3 linked regions of the Homo sapiens genome follow. The protein of the gene in region 2 interacts with the protein of the main gene of each other region in a pairwise test. Each region holds a gene or a part of one and is shown on either strand. Other genes may lie near its edges. The genes, in order: ZNF33A, MAP3K20 and RPS6KA5.

Region 1 (5,036 bases), on a different chromosome or scaffold from region 2:
TTGAACACTGAACGCCTGACACTGGACAGATAAGATCTAGGTGAGTTTGTCAGTCACACCAACTCTCAGAAAGGTGAGAAGGACACCACATGCTGGGAAGAGCCACACAGGGTTCGACTAGGGAGCAGAGTGGAAAAGGAGGGGTTGTGGCGAGCAGCTGTATTATCCAGAGTACAGTGACCACTGTTTGCTGTGGGAGGATGTGAGGGGTTTGGTGATAATTCCAAGAGCTGGCAGGGAAGCAAATCTTACTACTTAGGAATAAGCAGGAATTGTGCCTGGCCCCCCTGACAAGGAGGACTGTCTGCTAAGTTACCTCACCTGTGGAAGCAGAGTGGGGATGGAAATGAGGTTAGGTCATTTGAGGCCCTATTGGCTTCAGATGTCAAGAGAACCAAAAATACTAGTCCTTAATTTCAGGTCACAGTTACCATAATTTAAAATATATTAAGGATGTACAAAAGCAATTCAATTGTTCACTAATGATGATTTACATGTTCAGTCAGAAACATACAACTAACAAAAGAACACCTTAGTACAGAAACAAGATGTTCCTCAGGGTTGGTTGGTTGGTTATTTATTTACTTGATACACTTCATTTTTTAGAGTAGCTTTAGGGTTACAGAAAGTTGAGCAAAAAGTATAGAGAATTCTCATATAACCCTTTCCCCTCCCATCTTCCACAGGCTCCCCAATCATTAACATCTTGCATCATTATGGTTCATTTGTTACAATTAATGAGCCAACAGTGATACATTATTATTAACTGAAGTCCAGAGTTGACATTAGGGTTTACTCTGTGTTTTCCGTTCACTGTTTTCCATTCTCTGCGTTTTGACAAATTACAGTACCCTAGAGAGTACTTTCACTGCCTTAAAAATCACCTCTCTACCTGCCATCCCTCCTTTCCCCTCAACTCTCAGCAACCACTGGTCCTTTCACTGGCTCAATAGTTTTGCCTCTCCCAAAATGTCATATAATTGCAATCATACAAAATAGAAAGCCTTTTCAGATTGGTTTTCACTTAACAATAAGCATTTAGGGTTTCTCCGTGTCTTTTAATGACTTGATGTCCAATTCCTTTTTATCATCTACCTGAGGACTGTATCCTGCAATCCTGCTGTAATTGCTTATTAATGTCAGCAGGGTTTTTGTTATTTAGAATTCTCTACAAAGACAATCATGTTACTTGTGAACAAAGTTGTATTTCATCCTTTCAAATCTATGTGCATTTTATTTCTTTTTTTTTTAACACTGCATTATATAGCACTTCCAGTACAATGCTGAAAAGCAGTGGTGTGGTGTTCCTTGCCATGTTCCTGATCTTAGTAGGAAAGTGTCTAGTTGGAAACATCAAGGATAATGTTAGCTGTAGGGTTTTTTGTAGTATGTTCTTTACCAACTTGAGTAAGTTCTCCTGTATTCCTTCTGTGTTGAGAGGTTTTAACATGAATGGATATTGGATTTTGTCAAATGCTTTTTCTGTACCTATTGATATGATCGTATTTCATCTTTGAGCTGCTAATGCATGCAATGGATTACACTGAATATCAAATGTTGAACAAGCCTTGCATTCCTGATTTGCTAATATTTTGAGGATTTCTGCATCTGTGTTCAATGGAAATATTGATCTGTAGTTTTCCTTTCTTGTAATATCTTTGCCTGGTTTTGCTATTAGGGTAATACTGGCCTCACAAAATGAGTTGGGAAGTGTTATCTCTGCTTTTATTTTCTGAAAGAGATGGTAGAGACTTGGTATCATTTCTACCTTAAGTATCTCAAAAACACATCAGTGAACCCAGCTGGTCCTGGCACTTTGTTTTGGAAAGTTTCATTATTATTTTTTGAGATGCAGTCTCATTCTGTCACCCAGGCTGCAGTACAGTGGCACAATCTCAGCTCACTGCAACATCCACCTCCCAGGTTCAAGTGATTCTTCTGCCTCAGCCTCCTGAGTAGCTTCGACTACACACGCATGCCACCATGCCCAGCTAATTTTTTGTATTTTTAGTAGATAGGGGGTTTCACCATGTTGACCAGGCTGGTCTCGAACTCCTGACCTTGTGATCCACCCGCCTCAGCCTCCCAAAGTGAAGTGCTGGGATTACAGGCATGAACCACTGTACCTGGCCTTGGAAGGTTATTAATTACTGCTTTGGTTTATTTAATAGATACATATGCCTATTGAGGTCTATCTTGTGTGAGCTTTGAGAGAATGCGTCTTGCAAGGAATTGGTCCATTTTAGCTAAGTTATCAAATTTATGGACAGAGTTGTCCATGTTTCTTTCTAATCCTTTTGGTGACCATAGGATTAGCTGTGATGGCCTCTTTCATTTTTGGTATTAGCAATATTTGTCTTCTGTTTGTTCTTAAGCTAGCTAGAGGTTTATCAATTTTACTGACCTTTTCAAGGAACCAGTTTTGGGTTTTATCGATTTTCTCTTTTCAATTTCAATGATTTTTACTCTAATGTTTTTTCAGGTTACTTTGGATTTAATTTGCTCTTCTTTTTCTAGTTTCCTAAAGTGGAAGCTTAGATTACTTGTGTAATCTAGGATCACTAGACTGTATAATCTTAGATTATTTGTATGATCTGATCATGTAATATAGTGTACAATCTTCACACTATCAATAAAAGCCCCACACCAGCTTGATTCTGGTTCTGCTCCAGCCTCAACCCTCCTCTTCATATTCTCAAAAGTCTGAGGGCCCAGATCCCTGTCTGGGGACAATGAGCCTTGAAATGACAGTCCAACAGCCCTGGGCAGCCCTGGGCTGTATGTGTGGGCCTTTCCAGGGCCCTGTCTTGGAGAGCAGCTGCTTAAAGAAAATTTGGACTACCACTTATGCTGAAGGCTGGAATGTTCACATATGTACCCTAGGCACTTCATGGCATGGCATGAGCCACAGGTAGGAAGAGAAAGGGAGTAACATGGAGGCGAGCCTAGATCTTCACATGTACAGGATAGATTTTTTTTAGATAATTTGTTATTTTGATTTATACCTTTTAAATGGATAAACATTAGCTCTGTGGGTCTCCTTTTAAATTGTTTCAGGACATCACAAACATCTGGGATGGGCCTGATAATGTAACCACTACTAAACTAGGATACCTACTTCCTATTCACAATTACGTTAAATTCCATTATGCATATGAAACACACGATTTATATCACATACCACTTATACATATATAAGTCTTTTGAACTTCAGGGATAATTCGCAGATGTGCTTAATGCTATTGCCCTGATTATTCAATTTATCTGTGCTTTAAAAAAACTTCATAGTCAAGTGGATGCAAGGGATAGGGTTGCAGAAAGCGTGTGGTTATTAATACAAAAAGGGAACTACTTGAGGCTAAATCCTTTGTAATCCTGATACAGTACAGATCTCAGATTCCTTTTCAGTTCTGTAAACTAATCGTGTTGATGGTTACTCAAATGTAAAAGTCGTAAAAGTTTGATATAACCACACACACACACATACACGTACACACACACACAGAGTGCATGCAAACCATAGTAAAATCTGACTAAGTCTCTATCTACCAGCAAGGTAACATCGATTTCTTGGACTTGACCATATACTATGATTATACATTATCCTTAGAGGAAGTTTGGTGAAGTGTACATGGGAATTCTCTCTACTCATTAAACTTCTTGTGAGGTTATTTTAATTATTACCTTTGTTTAAGTTCTTAAAGCTTTACATTCCACAATATACATCTATAAATTATTGTTAGGTGCCCTAAAAACTATTATGGCATCAAACTCAAAACATAACTTGTCGTATTTTATTTCTAAGCAAAATTTTCACTTTAGATTTCTTAAATTGACAATTTTCTCCTCAGTGTAAATTCTAACATAACCTTATTTGCATTTTTGCCAAAAACTTTCACAAATTCAAAAAAAATCTGTAAGGTGTTATGCCCGTATTAACCATCTGATATTACATAGAATATCACTTCCTAACAAAAGCTGTCCTATAATTGTTGTAGTCTATGGGTTTATCCCCTACTATTACTTTGGAGTAACATAAGGTGAGTTTGTGGATAGTTACTGAACATTCAGGATGTCATCAGGGCTTTCTCCACAGTGTGAATACTCTGAGGCATTATGGAGGCTGACTTGTGGCTGGAAATTTCTAATATCCATTTCATTCATAAGGTTTTCTCCTATATGTCTTCTCTGATGTACAATGAGATTTGACTTTTGAGAGAAAGTTTTCCTGCATGTGTTACATTCATAGGGCTTTTCCCCTGTATGTGATCTCTGATGTTGAGCAAGTTCCGATTTACGGTAAAAGATTTTTCCACATTCATTACATTGACAAGATTTCTCTCCTGTGTGAGCCCTGTGATGTACTGTGAGTGATGATTTGTGCCTGAAGAATTTCCCACATTCATTGCATTCATAGGGTTTCTCCCCCGTGTGCTTTCTCTCATGGAAAATAAGTCCTGATTTTACACAGAAAGATTTTCCACATTCATTACATTTATAGGGCTTTTCTTGTGTATGGGTTCTCTGATGTACAATTAGAGCTGACTTATGGCAGAAAGCTTTTCCACACTCATTACATTTATAGGGTTTCTCCCCTATGTGAATTCTCTGATGCTGAGTGAGTTGTGACTTCTGGTAGAAGGCTTTTCCACATTCATTACATTCATAGGGTTTCTCCCCTGTATGTGTTCTATTATGTTTAGTTAGGTATGATTTATTGTAAAAGATTTTTCCACATTCATGACATTCGTAGGGTTTCTCCCCTGTGTGTGTTCTATAATGTTGAGAGAGGGTTGACTTATGGCTAAAGAATTTCCCACATTCGGGACATGCAAAGGGTTTCTGCCCTGTGTGTGTTCTCTGATGTACTGTGAGGTCTGACTTCAAGCAGAAGGTTTTCCCACATTCATAACATTCATAAGGTTTCCACCCTGTATGAATTATCTGATGCCTGGTGAGTAATGACTTGTGGTAGAAAGTTTTCCCACATGCATTACATTCATAAGATTTATCTCCTATGTGAATTCTCTGATGCT
Region 2 (7,123 bases):
AATTGCTCGAACCGTAGAGGCAGAGGTTACTGTGAGCCAAGATCGCACCACTGCACTCCAGCCTGGACAACAGAGCAAGGCTCTATCTCAAAAAAAAAAAAAAAAAAAAAAAAAAAAATTGCTTTTACACAAAAAAGGCAATTTTGCTCCACGCAACAATGCTCAGTTTTAGTTTTGTAGGATTCTAACTGTTGTTTTATAAACTCTCAAAGCTGTTTTAAATGTTAAGTATCTACCATACAATACTGAAGGGTAAGTTAGAGCAGAAATGTCACAAAAATCAAAGTAAAATAAGGCATCACAACTCTGTAAATGTTGAAAATCAATAATTTGGTGGTTGAATCCAATCATTTCACTACTTGAGTAGAATGTCAAAAAATTTTTAATTTAAAGTTTTCCTTAAATTAAAATTCAAAAACATTTAACTATTAACCAAATTGCTGAAAGCATATATAGCAGCATCACCTAATTATGAAAAGTGGAAACATAAGAAGGTAGGAAATCTTAAAGAATTATTTTACTTTTTAAAGTTTTCAATCTTCTAGTCCAAAAAAATAGACTTAAGTTTCTCTATTCACAGACCTTCTATTTTGCTTCTTGATTTTTCAGATCCATGTTGACCTCAAATAAGTCATTTACCTTTTCACTGTTACTTTTGCCCCAAATTAAAAACAAAAATGACCCCACTACAGTTCTAATGTTAAAAAGCAAGGTTTTAGAATTAGATTGATAGGAGTTTGAACTCTCCCTCCACCTCTCGGTAACTTTAACAAATCACTTTTTCTCAGACTGTGGCATTTCCAGATGCATAAATAAAAAATTTCAAATCTTTTCCATTCAATGTCACAAAACTGATAGCCCCAAAGTTATCAAGTTTGCATAGTATTTGACTTCATTGATACATCTCACTTCCAAATAAGAGATATTTCAACAGGGAAGTAGCATGATTCAGGGTAAAGACCCCTACTAGAGAGATCTATGAGCAGATCTGTTATTAGCTACTTGGGCAAGGCACTGTGTCTCTCTGACCTCACTGTTCTCACTGGCAATAATACCAGTGCTGTGAAAGTGCATACGTGAGCACAGTGCCTAGTATATGGTATACATGCAATTAATGGAAATTATGGTTTTCTCATTATTTTAATAACCCTTGATATCATATTTAGCCATCTATTCCTTCAGTTTTTATGGTCAGGTATGCTCTCAATAGCTTTCCTCTCCCCATTTTCAGAATTGTTTTATATTATATCTCTTAGTTTTGTAGAGCAATTATTAACAAATAAAGGTGCTATTGATCCCTGAATCCTTTCCCTCTCTTTGCCTATTTTCTAATTCTTTCTCATTCCTCTGTTTAACTGCCGTTTTTGGTTTTTGTCATTTCTGAAAGATCTTATTAGTAAGTAATTATAATTTCTTTTAAGCTTTTTTCATAATGTATTTAAATTGCTAAAACACAATACTTTTCTTTTTTTTTTTTTGCACTTTTTGGACATTAGCATTGCTAAGATCTATTTATTCAATGATAGCACTCACTTTGGTAGGGTGCTGGAGCATCCCCTCCTTCCCCAGTGACCACGGTCTTCTTTCAGACATTATCTGCTGCACAGTCAATTGCACGTCTAACCCAAGAAAACTTAACCTGATTATCCAATACCTGCAAGTGATGATTTTTTAAAAAAAATTAAATCTACTTTGGCCGGGCACAGTGGCTCACACCTGCAATCCCAGCATTTTGGGAAGCAGAGGTTGGAGGATCACTTGAGCTCAGCTGGGGCAACATAGGGAGATCTCATTTCTAAAAGTAAAAATAAAAACCTACTTTATGAAAGGATTAACTTTACTAGAAAAAAGGTCTTTGAACTTTCTCTGGATGTTTCTATCTTGTGGTTTTATATGGGCCTATATTTCTGAATTTAGAGCCTTCCTCTTTTCCTGTCCCTAATTCATACTTTCCTTTCCCCCTTCTTCAAAAAGTAAGGTTGCCAGTTTACTTTTTATACAATATAGGAAGAAAAACTTACACGTTTTATCATGACCTGGATGTGACAAAAAAGATACTTTTTGAAAAGAGCTTTCAATATTCAGCAAATTATTTTGCCAAACTTGCTGCCTTGATATTTATGCTAGTATTATTTCAGCCTCTTTAACATAGATCAGTGAATAAATTAATAATATGTGCTTTGTCATCATGTGTATAAAAAGAACACCACTTGGAATCACTGTTCTGCAATTTTTTTCCCCTGAGTCTTATCTTCAAAAAAATGAGGAAAGCTCTGGTTCAGTGTATTTGTCCGTAACACCAAGGTCAAAGATTCAAAGATTCTATTCCTCAACAGGACTGCTGTTCTACTATTTTTTTTTAATCACTAAAAAAGATAAAAGCTGGCTGGGTACAGTGGCTCACACCTGTAATCCCAGCACTCTGCAAGGCTGAGGCAGGAGGATCGCTTGAGCCCAGGAGGTCGAGGCTGCAGTGAGCTATGATTACGCCACTGCACTCCAGCCTGGGTGACAGTGAGACTCTGTCTCAAAAAAAAAAAATAAAAAATAAAAAAATAAAAGTTGCAAGACTAGGTATAGGAACAGAACCAACTTGTACTGTATCTACCAGATATTTCCTTTCTTCCTCCAAGGCTGCTCCTAGAAAAATAGTGTATCTTATACAGAGTAGGTTGGGTTCAGTAAATAGGACTTCAGGCATAGATATCTGAGAGAACCCAACTTTAAATAAGAATCCAAAAAACAGAATAGCCATTGTTTCATATTTTCCCCCTTCCTCTATCTTTACCATATAAAAGTAATGTAACTCTCTAGTTAGAGCAATGGTAAGAATAAAAATAAGCTAAACATTCTTATTGAAATATTAAAGTAATTTAGTAGTGAGGCATTCTTATTGAAATAATTAAAGTAATTTAATAAAAGTCAACTTCCACAACACACTTCCTTACCAAAAGTATTGTTACCAGAAGTAAAAGATGGGAGGCACAGGAATGTAGTTGGTGGGAGCACTTAACGCCACAGAAATGCTGCGTGGAAACATGTCTGTGCTCAAACAGAAGCCCAACAAGGAAACATGAAGTGGATACAACCTACGGCCACGGCATAGGCCGCTGCGTGGGCTTGTTGTGTTGAGTAGCTGGGAGCTTCTTGCAGCATGAGGAAGAGAATGGGGCCAGAGTTGAATAAAGTGAGGGTGCACGGAGAGGGGAGATTTCTAGGGCTTGGCCAGAAGAGGAATTCACAGGTGTCAGGACTGGGGATGAGGAGAAAGCCGTAGCCTATGAGTAAACAAGGCTCACTTCAGTTCGCTACCTCCCACCTATCCTGCCCCCACCCTAGGTCTTGCTGCTACTCAGCCCTTGTTTGTACCCCAAATCGTTTTCTGTCAAATAGAAAGTATCAGACCATCCTGGCTGCTGACAGACAGGTACAACTTTGGACTGAGTGCCTGGAATGAATACTCCCTGAGAAGGGTGAATGCAAGAGTTAAAACATGGTAACCTCAATGTAAGATGAAGGGTGAAAGGAATGGGGATGGTAAAACTAGGGAAGACTAAGACCTTATATTATGTTTTGATGATCAAGAGGCAAGGCTATCTGTGGATGAAAGTTACAGAAAGAATTTCTGGTTCTTTGGGAGGCCAAAGTGGGAGTATCGCTTGAGGTCAGGCATTTAAGACCAACTTGGGCAGCATAGTGAGATCCCATCTGTACAAAAAATGAATAAATAAAAATTAGCCAGGTGTGGTGGTTCATGCCTGTAGTCCCTGCTACTCAAGAGACTGAGGTGGGAGGATAGCTTGGGCCCAAGAGTTCAAGGTTGCCATAAGCTATGATTATGCCACTGCACAAAGTGAGACCCTGTCTCCAAAAAAAAAACAAAGGATTCCTGGTTTAGAGTTGGCCAACAAGAAAATCTGCCACCCTCTTTAGTAGTGAGTGACCCATCACCAAGAGCGTTCAATGGGATATGCGGTGTAGAGTGGGAGTGGGAGACTCTTGCATCAGCTAAGAGGGCAGAATGAAACCACTTTAAGACCCACTCCAACCCTGTTGAGTTGATGACTAATCTACTATAAAGTATAGACGGTCTCCCTCCTTTTCTGAGGGAAGCAGTCATGAACCCGACACCAAACATCATGGAGAAGCACAGTGAACCACATCAGTGATGGAAATAAAGGAAACGATTTGGCCATCTTCTTCAATTTCTCCTCCCAAACTGGGTGAGAAGCTAAGAGCCACATTCCAGGTTTCTATCCTAAAACTTTCCTCTTCCTTCCCCCCAATTCCCAAAGCAAAGAGATCTCTTTGTCTTGAAAGCCATCGTATAACCACCTAACATCAAAACTCTTTGGATGATGATCTACCCCTATTCTTTTATCAGCAAAATGGAATTGCACTACCCCATGCAGTATTGGGCTGCAGAGCTTAATGGTGCAGGACTCTTTATTAGGACCAATCCCATGTTCCTCGTGTGCTTATTCCCATACGTGGTATTACACAGTACTGTGCAGAAGGTGATATGAATAAACAGCTGTCCTACAGCATCAATTTCACTTTAACACTATGGGGAATAAGCCAGGCAAGGTAGCACATACCCTCAGCCCCAGCTACAGGGAAAGTTCAGGTGGGAGGATTGCTAGAGCACAGGAGTTCAAGGCCAGCCTGGACAACATAGCAAGACTCTGTTTCTAAAAAAAAAAAAAAAAAAAATTTGTCTTTTTTAAAATATGTGTCTGTATCGATTTGTTCAATTTAAGTAAAACAGTGTAGGACAGAAGAGAATGCAAAATCCACATAAATTTTTAAGATTAAATATAAAATTTTAAAGCAAGTACTTGCTTGCATTGGGGTATCTGTGGCTATACGGACAAATTCTTGAAGGAAAACATTCATTTATCCCCACAATAGAGTACTTTGGTAGAAAAGTTTAATAAGTAAAGATTTATTACATGACGTGCAGACAGCAATTCTTTCCTTTTCTTTTTGGTTTTCTTAAATGGAAGCCTGGAGATGAGTCCAGAAAGAAGGGTATTGGGGCCTTGCTCAAAATTAGCTATAAAAATGGTTCCAAGTGGTTCTAAAGCACACTTTAGAAACACTTATACTCAAAGCAGGAGAGTAGTTATGAAAACCTACATACCCACTACATAAGTATAACTTGGGAACAGGACAGGGTACCAAAGGCAAGCCTTAGCTGGAAGAGCTGAGTGCTATGGTAGGAATGCTCCCACCAAAATTCATGTTGAAACTTAATTACTTAATCGCTAATGTAACAGTACTGGGAAGCAGAACCTTTAAGAGGTGATTAGGTCATAAATGGATTCTCACTGTTATCCTGGGAGTAGGTTAATTATCTCAGGAGTTCACTTTTTCTCTTTGTCTTTCATGGCTTGCTTTCGCCTTCCACCCTTCCACAATGGGTGATTCTCGCCAGATGCCAGAGCCATGTACCTGGACTTCCCAGGCTCCAGAACCATGAGCCAAATAAATTACCCTTGTTCCTTGTAAATTACCCAGGCTGTGACAGACTGCTCTAGCAGCAGAAAACAGACTAGGACAGTGGGCAAGCAGCTCTGCGTATAACTTGAGAGATGTAGTAAAACATCCTTCTTTACCACATTGATACAGTGGCTGAAATTTCAGGCACTGTTACAAGCATTTCTATGTGCTTTCTCATAAAGTCATGCACCACATAACTATGCTTTAGTCAACAATGGACTGCATATATAACAGCGATCCCATAAGATTGTAATAAAGCTGAAAAATTCCTATTGCTGAGTGATGGCACAGTTTCCTAACATCATAGCACAATGCATTACTCATGTGTTTGTGGTGATGCTGGTGTAAACAAACTTATTATGCTGCCAGCTGTATAAAGGTACGGCACATACAATTATGTACAGTGCACAATGCTTGATAAGGATAATGACTGTGTTACTCATTTATGTATTTACTATACTTTTTATCCTCATTTTAGAGCATACTCTTTCCACTTAAAAAAAAAAAAAAGAAAATTAACTGAGGCAGGTCCTTCAGGAGGTGTCCAGAAGAAGGCATTGTTATCACTGGAGATGGGGAGATGGCAGCTCCATATACATTACTGCCCCTGAAGACCTTCCAGTGAGCCAAGATGTGGAGGTAGAAAACAGTGATATTGACGATCCTAACCCCATGTGGGGCTAGGCTGATGTGTGTGTTTCTGTCTTAGTTTTTAACAAAGTTTAAGAAGCAAAACAAATTTTTTTTTAAATTTAAAAATAGAAAAAAAATCTTACAGAATAAGGATATAAAGAATTTTTGTATAGCTGTACAATGTGTTTGTGTTTTAAGCTAAGTGTTATTTCAAAAGACTCAAAAAGTTAAAAAAAAGTTTAAAGTTTATAAAACAAGAAAGTTACAGCAAGCTAAGGTTAATTTATTATTGAAGAAAAATGTTTAAATAAATCTAGTAGAGCCTAAGTGTACAGTGTTTATAAAGTCTACAGTAGTGTACAGTGATGTCCTGGGCCTTCACATTCCCTCACCACTCACTCACTGACTTGCCCCAAACAACTTCCAGTCCTGCAACCTCCATTCATGGTAAATGCCCTATACGGGTGTACCATTTTTTATCTTTGATACTGTATATTTTATACTGTATTTTTACTGTGCCTTTTCTATTTTTCGATAGAAATACTTATTACTGTGTTACAACTGCCTATTCAGTATAGCAGCATGCTACATAGGTCTGTAGCCTAGGAGCAACGGACTATCTCACACAGCCTAGGTGTGTAGTAGGCTATAGCATCTAGGTTTGTGTAGGTGCACGCTGTGGTATTTACACAACTACAACATCACGTAACAACACAGTTCTCTCAGAACGTATCCCCATCATTAATGGACACATGACTGTACTTATCCTTAGGAAGCAGGTACTACTGTTCCTAACTTACATGAGTGAGAAAACTGAGGATCAGGGGTATGAAAGTAGCTCAAGCCAACTACCTTACAGGTGACACAACTTGTGTCAAATTCAGGCCTGACTCCAAAGTCATATCATTGTTTTCTACCATATCATGTCTTTTTGTTAATAACATTCTGCCTCCTCCTTCTAATTTGCCTTTTGTTTACCCTATTTAAA
Region 3 (7,123 bases), on a different chromosome or scaffold from region 2:
TTCAGTAATATAACTCAGTAAGTGACCTAGAGGGAAAAGGGGCTTGCATTATTCTATGGGGGACATAAGAGGCAGTGTTTAAAATGCTTGAACACAGTTGAATAAGAAAAGAGTGATCACATCCATATGATGGTATCATTTGAACTTCTAGACATAAGCACATGCCTGATTTACAGTGGATTTATTTTCCAGTCTGTCTGGATGCCCAGGAGGAAAAGCAAGTGCAGGCAGAGAGCTAAGTAACACTGCCTCTAGAAAATAGGAACATTCTTTTAGAGCTAATATCCACATCTGTAGAGCCTTTGGAAACCCTTTATTTCAGTTTTTTATTTTGTTTTGGGTTTTTTGTTTTCTTTTTGGCTTAACACCTTTCTGAGGAGGCTCAGGACAAAAGTATTCTTCTGTTGTCTTTAAAGGTAAACTAGGGTGTCTTGGTGCCCCCCAGAGGACACTCTGAGATTCAACAGCGATAGTCTCATCTTTGAGGCACAGCATTGGTTGGAGCTATAAACTGCTGTGATCTTGTTTGGAGAAAATATGTTTTTTATTATTGATTTGAAATATGTTCTCTTATTTTTATCCTCTCTCCCTACCAGTCAAAATCCTAATTTATCTTTGTTATTCTTAGAAAGTACATTTTGACTATTGATTTCTACTTTGTACCAACTTTCTTTGTTTTAGAAAATAAATTGGGATGATTTAGCCGCCAAAAAAGTGCCTGCACCATTTAAGCCAGTCATTCGAGATGAATTAGATGTGAGTAACTTTGCAGAAGAGTTCACAGAAATGGATCCCACTTATTCTCCCGCAGCCCTGCCCCAGAGTTCTGAGAAGCTGTTTCAGGTAATTTCCCATCCTGTGCACATGCACATTGGCCATATGTCCTTTGAAAGAAAAGATTAAATTTCCCATATTGAAGTAGTTTTGTTGGCATCATAAAAATGGGATTCTCTAATATCCTCTAAATTATTAAATGCAGAAATATTGCACATTGTTAACCGAAGCTTATAGTTTGCTCAATAGCAGATATTGTTTATGCATTTATTTTTGATATAAGGGAAGTTTTAATTTTATACCTGAAATTTTATTTTTGTTCAGATTCTTTTATAGAAAATACAATAATCTTTTATTTTACCTCTATTCATATTTAAAAATTTTTATTTATATAGACAGGGTCTCACTCTGATGCCCAGACTGGAGTGTAGCAGTGCTGTCCTAGCTCACTGCAGCCTCAGACTCCTGGGCTCAAGTGATCCTCTCACCTTAGCCTCTGGGATAGCTGAGACCACAGGTGCAAACCAGCACACCCAGCTAATTTTTCTATTTTTTGCAGAGATAGGATCTTGCTATGTTGCCTAAGCTGGTCTTGAACTCCTGGCCTCAAGTGATCCTCCTGCCTTGGCCTCCCAAAGTGCTGGCATTACAGGCATGAGCCACCACGTCCAGCCAAAAAAATTTTTTTTTTTTAAGAAACAAGGTCTCACTCTGTCACCCAGGCTGGAGTGCAGTGGCATGATCATAGCTCACTGCAGCCTTTTTAACTGCTTGGCTCAGGGGATCCTCTTGCCTCAGCCTCCTGAATAGCTGGGACCACAGGTGCATGCCACCACACCCACCTAATTAAAAAAAAATTGTAGAAACAGGGTCTTACTTTGTTGCCTAAGCTGGTCTTGAACTCTGGCCTCAAGCGATCCTCCTGCCTTGGCCTCCCAAAGTGCTGGGATTCTAGGCATGAGCCACCGTGCCCCTCAACCCCCATATAAAAACATTCTTTAGTTCACAATGTTACCTTATTCTTTACCTTCAGTAATTAATCTTAACTGCTGTTAAAAAAAGATTTAGATTTTATATTTAGAAAAGGGCATTTGTCACACAAGATAAAATATTCTAACTATTAAATGGCATCAGAGCTTTGCTTCTTTGACTTCTATAAGTATACCTTTAGTATGGCTTAATCTGGCCATCCAGACGGTGTCTTTTCTTCTTTGCTTATCACTGTCTAGTATGTGACTGGGCACTTATTGAACATTTTTTTAAATGTTTGTTGATTAGTGAATGTTCTAGCTTGAACGGATTAATCATCCGTCTTTGTACCACTTAGCTCAGAGCATCATTCTGCCATTAGACTTTGTTCCTTTCCAAAACTCAATTTTAAATTTAATTATTCTGAAGATATTAATAAGAATCAAATAATTGCTAAATTAGAAACTAACTTTAGTGAGACTTGCCATTTTTCCAGTTTGAAAAACAATAGCATTTAAAGACCACTTTGTGGCTGGGTCTGGTGGCTCAGGCCTTTAATCCCAGCACTTTTGGAGGCCGAGGTGGGTTGATCACTTGAGGTCAGGGGTTTGAGACCAGTTCGAGACATGGTGAAACCCCGTCAGGCATGGTGGCATGTGCCTATAATCCCAGCTACTTGGGAGGCTGAGGCAGGAGAATGGCTTGAACGCAGGAGGCAGAAGTTGCAGTGAGCCAAGATCGCACCACTGCACTCCAGCCTGGGCAACAGAGCCAGACTCAATCTCAAAAAAAAAAGACCACTTTGTTTAATACCTTGACTGTATCCTTTTTTGAGAAGTTAGTTATGTTTGTAAACAAATTTCATCAGCAAACCAGGAGAATTTCATCTATGAGTCTGATTTTGGGGGTGGAATAGGGAAGAAGTCTTTTTCTACCTTTATTTTTGAATTGGTTTAGTTCTACCAGAAGATGGCATTATATCCTTCTGAACAGCATTTTTCAAATGATTTGAAATAACCTTGCATTTTAGATTGCAAATAAAATAAAATTAGACTCATCTCAACAAATATTTGAGTGTTTTTCTAAGGAAAAAAAGTCATTACAATCTAATCTGTGTTAAACTGGAAAACTGCAAGTTGTTTTTCTTTATCTTTCTTTGTCTTGTTTTTAGGGCTATTCCTTTGTTGCTCCTTCCATCCTATTCAAGCGTAATGCAGCTGTCATAGACCCTCTTCAGTTTCACATGGGAGTTGAACGTCCTGGAGTGACAAATGTTGCCAGGAGTGCAATGATGAAGGTATATAGATGTGGTAACTTATATGACATATTTGTAGGTTTTGTGAGTGTTTAAATACCAACTCTAATTAATGTTCTTAAGTCTAGTAATTCAACTAAAGTGCAATTTTAAAAGTGGGATATAGCAATATTTTCCCTAGAGAATTAACGTCAAGTTGAATGAACTTCTTTTTACAATTATAGAGAATTATGTATCTTAAATAATTATTTAGATGAAAATAGAAGTTACCTATAAAGATGAATTTTAGATTATAAATGTATTCTATTCCTGTTTATTAATATTAATAATTTTATTTTACTCTACAATTTTATTGATCCTTTGTGTATTACTGACATTTTCTGAAGTTAAATGATGTTGATTTCTTGACAGGACTCTCCATTCTATCAACACTATGACCTAGATTTGAAGGACAAACCCCTGGGAGAAGGTAGTTTTTCAATTTGTCGAAAGTGTGTGCATAAAAAAAGTAACCAAGCTTTTGCAGTCAAAATAATCAGCAAAAGGTATGACCATTTTTAATATAATATTCTTTCTTAGGTATTCATGAATTCTGTAAATTAAAAGATATTTATTTTAATTGAAACCAGTATTATATTGTAAGACTTTCTTACCCAAAGGTTTAACCACTTGGCTCATCAGTTGGTCCATTATACTTTTAGCTCTAATTGATATTTTCTGATAAAGTAATCCATTTTAGACATAAATCATAGTCTTATTTGCTTTTGAGTTTATCTAGAGAAAACGTCTTTGTGACAGTGACATATTTAATCAGGCTCACATAGTGATTTTGGCAGCCATTGCCATTTCTACTAGTTGTGTATTTGAAATATTTTTCTCTAAAATTATTTAGCAAGCTACTGATAGCTTTGAGAGCCATCTAGTTGTTTTGGTAACTGATGATTATTATTAAGATTGCATATTCTTATTACTCTAAATTGTCAGGAAAGTAGAGCATTCATTTCCTCATATGATTTGTACTTTTCTGACTCAGAAATAATAATTTTCTCCAGAATATTACTTTTTCTAGTGTGTGGTATAATTCATTACTTTCATGGAAACCTCATTACAGTATACTGTAACATGTATATTCTGAATGCACTGTAAATAAGACAAAATTAGTCTTGGGGCAGTACTGATATAAAAACTTTCTTGAAGAGACATGTGGATGCTAAGTGTCTCATCTTGCAGGATGGAAGCCAATACTCAAAAGGAAATAACAGCTCTGAAACTCTGTGAAGGACACCCCAATATTGTGAAGTTGCATGAAGTTTTTCATGATCAGGTATCCTACTTTTTTTTTTTTTTTTTCCCATGTGTACTAATTCACTTACAGGGTTGTACTTTTCACGCGTTTTGTTGGTGCTGCTGGGTCAGAGTCAGGGATATAGAACATCACCCAGCCACCAGAAAGGGCAGTGAAACCACCCTCTCAAACCCCTCCCCAACCACACACTGTTTCCCAACCCCAAATCAGGTTATCCCTTCACCTCTCATGCTTTTCTCACTCAGCAGTTAACCACCTATGACAGGAAGACGGAGGGCCAGGAGCTCAGTGGTGCAGTCACTGGCTACAATGTGCTTGTTGCCAGTGCCGCTTCTACCCACCATCACTTAATCCTGGAGTACCTCTCAGGACTCAGGAATTTTGAGCCTCCAACTTCCCTTTCACTTCTAGAGTAAAACTGAGAGAGCCTGGAGCCTAATTAATGCAAGCTAAAGGACAAATAGGAAGCAGAAAGCAAAGATACTCCTTTTATCTTCTAGCTCCAGGTGGTAAATTCTGCTCAGAACCCTGGCCAGATCATGCTGCCCCCTCTTCTGCTCTCAGTCCTGCTTTGCAGCAGGAACTATGGGAGGATGCCAGTGTGTCCAGTTCGTGTCTGTTCACCTCACACATGACAGAAATTGCTCCATTACACTTCTCTGCCCCTGAGACCAGGTGGGGTGATGCAGTCCTACTTAAGACAACTTGGAGGCACAAGAGCACAAACCAATCCTGAATGTGCTTTGCCCTAATTTTACCAATAAAGAAACTGAGATTTTGAATGTTCATAAAACTTGTCTAAGGTCACATAGCATGTCAATGCGAATCTAATAAGGAGAACCTGTACTCCAGTTCTGGGCTCTCTTTGTTGTGCTGTTGTAATATCTGTGACCTAGGATCGATGGGGCCCAGTTCTCTACCACATTGAAATATCCTCGAGTGCTATTGCCAGGAATGATACATCATGGTGAGACCAGGCAGCAGCAGCAGTAGCACCATAACCATAATAGCTGCTGCCATTTATTATCACATATCTTGTGTGGTCTAGGTTCTGTACCAGGCACTCTGCATGTATTGTCTTATTCAGTCCTTACCATAGGTCCATGAGGTGAGAAAATGGACACTCATAGAAGTTAAGTAACAGGTCTTACAGTTGGTAAGTGTGGTAAGGCTGGGATCTGAATCCACACAGTCCAACTTCAGAGCCCAACAAGCTTTTATTTACTTTAAACTACTGCCTTAGGGAAGGCAGAATCACATCTGGCAGTAAGCATCCCAAAATGGCATCATCCTCTACTCACTCTTTGGTTCTTGTAGTCAGAAAAGAAATGCCACTGAAGCAAGGACTCAGGGGGAACCGCTCTCCCTGATCCTCTACCTCCTCTTGCCTCATCAAGCCACTCGACACAAGAGGAGGTAATGAGTCCCCTGGCCACGAAGGTGCTTAAGAAGAGGCTCACTAGACAGTCTCCTGTTGAAGATGATATAGAGGAAATTCACATCATTCAAGGAATCAACGGGTGATCTTAGATGCTCTCCTCTGGGTTTGCAGCTGTGCCCATAACTACATCCCAGACAAGATACTTGATCTCTGACCTTCAGACTAATGTCAGGTCCCATGAACAACATTTCTAATTTTTTATTTGTGTCACAAATTAAGTAGATGTTTTGCTATTTATATATTCAGGAGTTACTAAAATATAAATTGTCACATGATATAATCCTATACAAACTAGTATAAATACATTATCAATCTAATATGCAGTTGTAATGTATCTTGGGTTTTCTCATAATGGTGGCACAGTTGCCTAGATCATCCCTGTATCCAGTCTTTTCTTCAACTAATGGGTGAAATTGGTTATGGTGGGTCTTCAGCCTTTGTGCAATAGCATAGTTCATTTTGTGTGCCATGATATGCGTTTCACGTACTCCATGAGTTTGCTATTGCTGCTGCAACAAATCACCACAAACTTAAAACAATACAAATTTATTATCCTGCAGTCTGGAGGTCAGAAGTCCAAAATCAGGCCCATTGGCTTAAAGTCAAGCTGTCACCAGAGCTGGTTCCCTCTTGAGCAGAACCAGGTGCACAGCGGGAGGTGAGTGGCAGGTGAGCCAGCATTACTGCCTGAACTCCACCTCTTGGCAGATCAGCGACAGCCTTAGATTCTCACTGGAGTACAAACTCTATTGTGAACTGCGCATGGCGAGGGATCAAAGTTGCAGCACTCCTTATAAGAATCTAATGCCTGTCCCACCCCACTACTGCCTCCCCTCGTCCATGGAAAAATTGCCTTCCGTGAAACCATTTCCTGGTGCCAAAAAAGTTGCGGACCTGGCTCATGCCTGTAATTCCAGCACTTTGGGAAGGTGAGGCAGGTGGATCACTTGAGGTCAGGAGTTTGAGACCAGTCTGGCCAACATGGTGAGACCCTATCTCTACCAAAAAATACAAAAAATTAGTCAGGCGTGGTGTTGTGCGCCTGTAGTCCTAGCTACTCTGGAGGCTGAGGTGGGATAATCCGTTGAACTTGGGAGGCGGAGGTTGCAGTGAGCCAAGACTGCACCACTGCACTCCAGCCTGGGTGATAGAGTGAGACCCTGTCTCAAAAAAATAAGAAAACAAAAAAGAAAAAAAATGTTGAGGATCACTGCTCTGGAGGCTCTAAGGGACAACCCATTTACTTTCCTTTTGTAGCTTCTAGACACCCCCCAACATTTCCTTGGCTGTGAGCCTTCCATGCATCACTCTAAGATCTTGCCTCCAGGGTCTCATCTCATACTGCTAACTCTGATGAATAATTCAGGATAATCTCACA

Evidence for each region.
Region 1: the proteins of MAP3K20 (region 2) and ZNF33A interact in a two-hybrid assay, tested with the Homo sapiens proteins (one study listed by BioGRID).
Region 3: the proteins of MAP3K20 (region 2) and RPS6KA5 interact in binary tests that used the Homo sapiens proteins (3 or more experiments, as listed by UniProt).

Annotation. Positions count from the first base shown.
Region 1 is NC_000010.11:38,055,581-38,060,616, reverse strand, and holds the end of ZNF33A (zinc finger protein 33A), read right to left. Parts: coding exon 4,057-5,036; 3' UTR 530-4,056; downstream 1-529. UniProt on the Homo sapiens protein: May be involved in transcriptional regulation.
Region 2 is NC_000002.12:173,078,780-173,085,902, reverse strand, and holds part of MAP3K20 (mitogen-activated protein kinase kinase kinase 20), read right to left. Parts: intron 1-7,123. UniProt on the Homo sapiens protein: Stress-activated component of a protein kinase signal transduction cascade that promotes programmed cell death in response to various stress, such as ribosomal stress, osmotic shock and ionizing radiation.
Region 3 is NC_000014.9:90,896,528-90,903,650, reverse strand, and holds part of RPS6KA5 (ribosomal protein S6 kinase alpha-5), read left to right. Parts: intron 1-681; coding exon 682-843; intron 844-2,914; coding exon 2,915-3,040; intron 3,041-3,409; coding exon 3,410-3,543; intron 3,544-4,228; coding exon 4,229-4,322; intron 4,323-7,123. UniProt on the Homo sapiens protein: Serine/threonine-protein kinase that is required for the mitogen or stress-induced phosphorylation of the transcription factors CREB1 and ATF1 and for the regulation of the transcription factors RELA, STAT3 and ETV1/ER81, and that contributes to gene activation by histone phosphorylation and functions in the regulation of inflammatory genes.